Regions from separate parts of the Homo sapiens genome. Here region 2 is linked to region 1. The links come from fine-mapping of genetic effects on gene expression. A gene starts in region 1. The other region holds a variant in brackets. All regions are shown on one strand. Distances are from middle to middle.

Region 1 (2,931 bases):
TCGGTAAATTGACCCTCAGTCACATCTTTAGAAGTGCAGCAGTGTATATATGAGCTTAAATAGAACTCTAAATGTCAATGCATTCCCTATTTCCACAATATTGCTGAATGTAGTATTTTTAACACATTATTTTAAGCACTATGATTGATGGCTGGTTTCCTAAATCCACAGTAAGAATCCAATTGAGAGTTCAACTGAACCCTCAAAGTAAAGTGGCAATAAAGCACCCAATCAACAATAAACTTCTATGTTGCGGACTCTTAAAATGCAGATACTTTTCGAGGAACATTAGTTTTATACAAAAGGTGGCTCCTAGAGTATAGTTTCTCTTGTAAGAAAATAAACTTCAAATTTTAATACAACAAATTCTATTTGTGGTATAATCTAAATAATGCTAATATAATTTAGAGAAAAACAAACGATTTAGTAACAAGGCATAAAGAGACTTTCCTTACACATAACATGCTAAATATTACTCGTTTTTAAATGGTGCCACTTGGTAACGAAAATACCGTAACTTTATTTGCTTTCTTTAAACTTGCCATTCTGGAAATCAGATTTGTGTTTTAACAGATTTACACAAGCAGTCCACTGAAGAGTGGAGCAAAATTTATCATAAATCTGATCTCACTTTATAAAACTCATGATGAAAAATTTTCCTTTTATATCATTTCATGTAATTTTAAAACTATAAACTACTTTCCCAGAAAGATGAAATGTGCAACACTCTGAAATCACCTAAATTGATACTGCTATTCTTAAAACATAAAATCAAATAAATGGTCATTCATACAGCACCAAAAATGTCTTTGGAAAAAACAATACTCATATCCACTTACCACCCAAGGTTGCATAAAGAAAAAAAACTTTAACTCCAAATATATAAAATAAAACATGTTTATTTTACATAGGAACTGATAATCTGAAGTATAAGATGCTAATTTCCAAATGTATCCTGGCTTGTGTGTAGCCTTGGTCAAATGATCATTGTATCAGAAAGATAAAGAAAAAATAATCGTATTTCAGTACTTCTATACATCCTAAAAGGGAAGACGGAACACTTAAGTGGTTGATAAATTTGAAAAGCTGATTAAACATAATAATCACCATGTTGGGGGAAGACATAAAAGTCATAAAACAGATTTTTTATAATATTAAAAAAGTGACATGAAAATTATACAATTTTAGAAAGGAATATAAAAAGGCAGGAGTTAAAAAATAGTGGGACTAATATCATAGAAAACTATCCATGAGGAAGGTCAAATTTATTTTCAACATGTAAAAAGGATAAAGAGTAGAGGTATTTTAAAAATTCACAGATTCTTAATGAGGCAAATGTTAAAATATGGAACCCAATCTCAGACAAATACATAGAAAGGAGTAAGGGCCAACTCTCATGCATAAGGTATCCCATCCTATAGCAAATCAGATATATAGGTACGCTTGATGCCACAAATTTTTTAAAAAATTGTCCATTTTGTTGCGTGTGCACCTCTTGCCATAAATTTGAGTCAGCACCAGCGACAGCTCTGCAGTCCTCCTATGTGGTACTGATCAGGTGGTTGCAGAGCTTCAGCTCACAGCAACACAATGCAGCTGAGCAGGCAAGCACAGCCCACAGCCAGAAACAGTTCCGACTCTACAGAACAAGACGACCTTTAAGTTTCCCAGAGAAAATGAGATGCTGATGTTGAAGACGACACCACGGTAAGATGTTATTTAAATCAGTAAAAGGCTGACTTTGGAATCTTTTTCCTTTTTCTTTTAAGAAAAAGTCAACGTTAGGATTAAATATATATTCAATAGCAAGTGCATGCACCAGAAATTTGCTGCAGTGTCAGTTGAGGGATATTTTTTATACATTCAGTCACTCTGTAAATATACATATTGTTTTCCTTTAAAATGGGCACTGAAATATACAGAAAAAAATCACTTTATAAAATGTGAGGTTTATAGGTACTGTGTTGGTCTGGATTTTTCAAGTGCTTTTTACAAAGATATATTTATCCTAAAAACATACAGATAAAATTTCGAAGAACTGCTTTAATATCTAAATAAAATCTACCCTATATACACACATTGAATTACATTACTGCAGAGATTAAAAAAAAAAGACACGACAGCCATTTTTTCTCATCTGAGTAAGAAAGCATATCATCAAAAATAGTAATAGCCTACAACTGCAACTATTTATTTGCAAAGAATGCTATTTTATCATATTAAGGCTCTAGAAAGATAAATAAGAAAGAATATGGTTAGAAAAGGGGGGAGGGAGAGAGAAAATAAAGGAGAAAATGCAGGAGAGAGTAGGGAGAGAGTCTCTCTCTACCACATAGCCCAATTGAAGGATTAAGCATTTGGACTATAAATGAAGGGGAGCTTTGTTAGTTTAATCACTGGAACAATTATAAAAGGACTCGACAACAACGAGGTTTATTGAAAATTTTGCCTAATGCTAACTGACCCATGCAGATGCCTAAACTGTATTTGCATATTAAAAGAAGGGTGTATCTGTTTGTTTCTAGGCTTTGATGGAATATCAGATATTGAAAATGTCTCTCTGCCTGTTCATCCTTCTGTTTCTCACACCTGGTATTTTATGCATTTGTCCTCTCCAATGTATATGCACAGAGAGGCACAGGCATGTGGACTGTTCAGGCAGAAACTTGTCTACATTACCATCTGGACTGCAAGAGAATATTATACATTTAAACCTGTCTTATAACCACTTTACTGATCTGCATAACCAGTTAACCCAATATACCAATCTGAGGACCCTGGACATTTCAAACAACAGGCTTGAAAGCCTGCCTGCTCACTTACCTCGGTCTCTGTGGAACATGTCTGCTGCTAACAACAACATTAAACTTCTTGACAAATCTGATACTGCTTATCAGTGGAATCTTAAATATCTGGATGTTTCTAAGAACA
Region 2 (2,931 bases), 88 kb after region 1:
TTTCCAGAAGAGAAGCAAATCAGAAACAGGAGGGTTTTTTGTTTTTTGTTTTTGTTTCTTTGAGACAGAGTCTCGCTCCGTTGCCCAGGCTGACAGTGCAGTGACACAATCTTGGCTCACTGCAACCTCCGCCTCCCGGGTTCAAGCAATTCTCCTGCCTCAGCCTCCTGAGTAGCTATAACTACAAGTGCCTGCCACCACGCCTGCCTAATTTTTTTGCATTTTTAGTAGAGACAAGGTTTCACCATGTTGGCCCAGTTGGTCTCAAACTCCTGGTCTCAAGTGACCTGCCCGCCCCGGCCTCCCTAAGTGCTGGTATTATAGGCATGAGCCACTGTGCCCGGCCTGTACGAGGATTTTGAAACCACATCAAGTAAGAAATTCATTCCTTCATTCATTCTGCAAACATGTACTAAATGCCCAATATGTATCAGATGTTGTTCAAACGTTAGGGATTCAGTGTTGATTAAGCCAGACAAAGCTACTGCTTTCATCAAGCTAACTTGCTAGTGAAGAAGGACAACTAAAGAACCTGATAAAGACACTGAACTGAATGTCAAGAAACCTCAGAACTAACTCTGGTTGACTGTTCATTAACCATGCATTTGTTATTAATATAACTTTATTTAAGCTTCAGTTTCTTTAGCTATAAAAACAGACCCAACAAACACACATACAGTTTTAAAGAGAGCTAAAAGAGGCCAGGCACAGTGGCTCATGCCTATAAGCCCTGCATTTTGGGAGACTGAGGCAGGTGGATCACCTGAGGTCACAGTTCAAGAGTAGCCTGCCCAAAATGGTGCTAAATGGTCTACTAAAAACACAAAATTAGCTGGCATGATGGTGGGCACCTGTAACCCCAGCTAGTCGGGAGGCTAAAGCAGGAGATCACTTGAACCTGGAAGGTAGAGGTTGGAGTGAGCCAAGATTGCATCACTGCACTCACTCCAGCCTGGGTGACAGAGTGGGACTCGGAGTGGGACTCTGTCTCAAGAAGAAAAAAAAAGAGAGAGAGCTAAAAGAATAAAATCCCTTCCAATGCCAAAACGATATAAAAATAAAACGAATTCTAGGAGTACAGAATAACCTTATTCAAATATCTGCAGGGCCACCTTGTGGAAGAATCAGAAGTATTCTATAGAGCTCCAACAGAAAGAGGATCAGTGATGGCTGTAAGTGACAGAGACATGATTCTATCTTGGTCGAAGAGAAAATTTTCAAATAATTAGCTCCTTCCAACAAGTAACTTGTCTCTCCAAAATACAAAGTGTTAGTAAAGCCTTGAAGCAGATATTATTTTACTTTTACTGTTTTGCAACAGAACTCCTAGATTGCTACTTCTGAAGCAAGCTAATGGCTCAGGTTTATCAGTCCCAAATCATTTGAGGCAATACAAATGAGGGACAACCCACTGAACATACTCTGTAATACAGTAGTTCTCAACTGGGGGTGATTTTGTCCCCCAAGGGGCATCTGGAAATGTTTGGAGACATGTTTGGTTTTCATGACTTGGAGGGCTGGGGGGTAAAGG[G/C]AATATTGGCATCTAGTGGGTAGAGGCCAGAGATGCTGCTGAATATCCCACAATGCGCAGTACAGCCCCCTATAACAGAGTTATCCAGTCCAAAATGTTAATAGTGCCAACAGTAGGAAACTCTGATGTTAGGTATTATCTGTAAACCATTTATTATATATATTTGCCTGTGTTGCCAGACTCCATGCCACCTGTAGTGAGTTTTTTTGTTTGATTTTTTTTTTGAGACCGATTCTCGCTCTTGTTGTCCACACTGGGGTGCAATGGCGCCATCTCAGTTCACTGCAACCTCTGCCTCCCAGGTTCAAGCGATTCTTCTGCCTCAGCCTCCTGAGTAGCTGGAATTACAGGGATGCACCACCACGCCTGGCTAATTTTTGTATTTTTAGTAGATATAGGGTATCACCATGTTGGCCAGGCTGGTCTCGACCTCCTGACCTCAGGTGATCCGCACACCTTGGCCTCCCAAAGTGCTGGGATTACAGACGTTAGCCACCGTGTCCGGTGTTGAGTTCTTCATTAGACATTTTCAAGCAAAAGCTATAAACCTTTTGCTTGGAATCTCGGTGAGGGGAAGTGCTGTGTATGTTTAGTTCACCATGCTTCCCTGGCATTAGCACCTTTGCCTGGCAAAGAGTAGAAGGTCAATACTTCCATACTGGTTATCTGACTGTTAACTCACCAAGTTTATGAAGGGTGAGATTTTACCCTAACAGCCATTCAAAACCTAAAATTTTCTTATTCTAAAAATTGTTTCATATTACATTTGCTATTTATTTTCTCTCCTGGTAATATCAGCCCAAAAGCTGTCCTTTAGTCATTATGTACAAATATACATACATATAACATTTCAAAAACATAAACAGCTTAGGAATGATTTTGAAAATTAAATGTATATTGATATTTTCAGAAAATAATTAGAAATAAAAACTAAATTCTTATTACAGGTGTCCTTGAGCCAAAAGAGGAAATCCTCTCTAGTTATGGCTTTTCGGTAAAATAATATGTAGCTCTGAGAATCAGCTTATAACTAGGGCTAAGAAGTAAAATAACTTCTAAGTGTAGAGAACATATTTAGACTACCAATCAAATTTTACCTCTGTTCAAAATAATCATTTAGTTTCATTTTTAGTCCTTATTCACAGAAAATTATGGGCAGCTGGTAAAGTGGATATTGAAGTTAAATAGGAAGTGAATATTAACCCCCCAACAAGTCCTATTATTGGAGGTCATTAACTTTCTACCAGAAAAGGTAGTAAACTTAAAGCAAAAAAGTCAAATAAACTTCTGATTTCCCAGATCTCTGGAATAAACAGGTCAATAAATAACTTTTAAACAACTTATTTCAAGTAGTTTTAAAAGATTTTTTAAAAATATCTTATTAAATGACATTTAAACAG

Which allele goes with the higher level. Alleles are on the strand shown, and positions count from the first base shown. SD is a standard deviation of normalised expression in the study named.
With allele C in place of G in region 2, the expression in spleen of the gene that starts at base 1,624 in region 1 is lower (moderate effect, 0.58 SD a copy in GTEx).

Evidence for each region.
Region 2: its variant is fine-mapped to the expression of OMG in spleen (GTEx, PIP 0.97).

Annotation. Positions count from the first base shown.
Region 1 is chr17:31,295,932-31,298,862 of GRCh38, reverse strand. OMG (oligodendrocyte myelin glycoprotein) reads left to right here and starts at 1,624. Exons shown (of 2, transcript NM_002544.5): 1 at 1,624-1,707; 2 at 2,526-2,931. The coding sequence starts at 2,532. All of the region lies in intron 36 of NF1 (neurofibromin 1), which reads right to left.
Region 2 is chr17:31,207,716-31,210,646 of GRCh38, reverse strand. All of the region lies in intron 12 of NF1 (neurofibromin 1), which reads right to left. Among named protein-coding and RNA genes, the nearest start is that of OMG, 88 kb to the left of the region's middle. The variant G/C (reference allele first, on the strand shown) is at 1,532.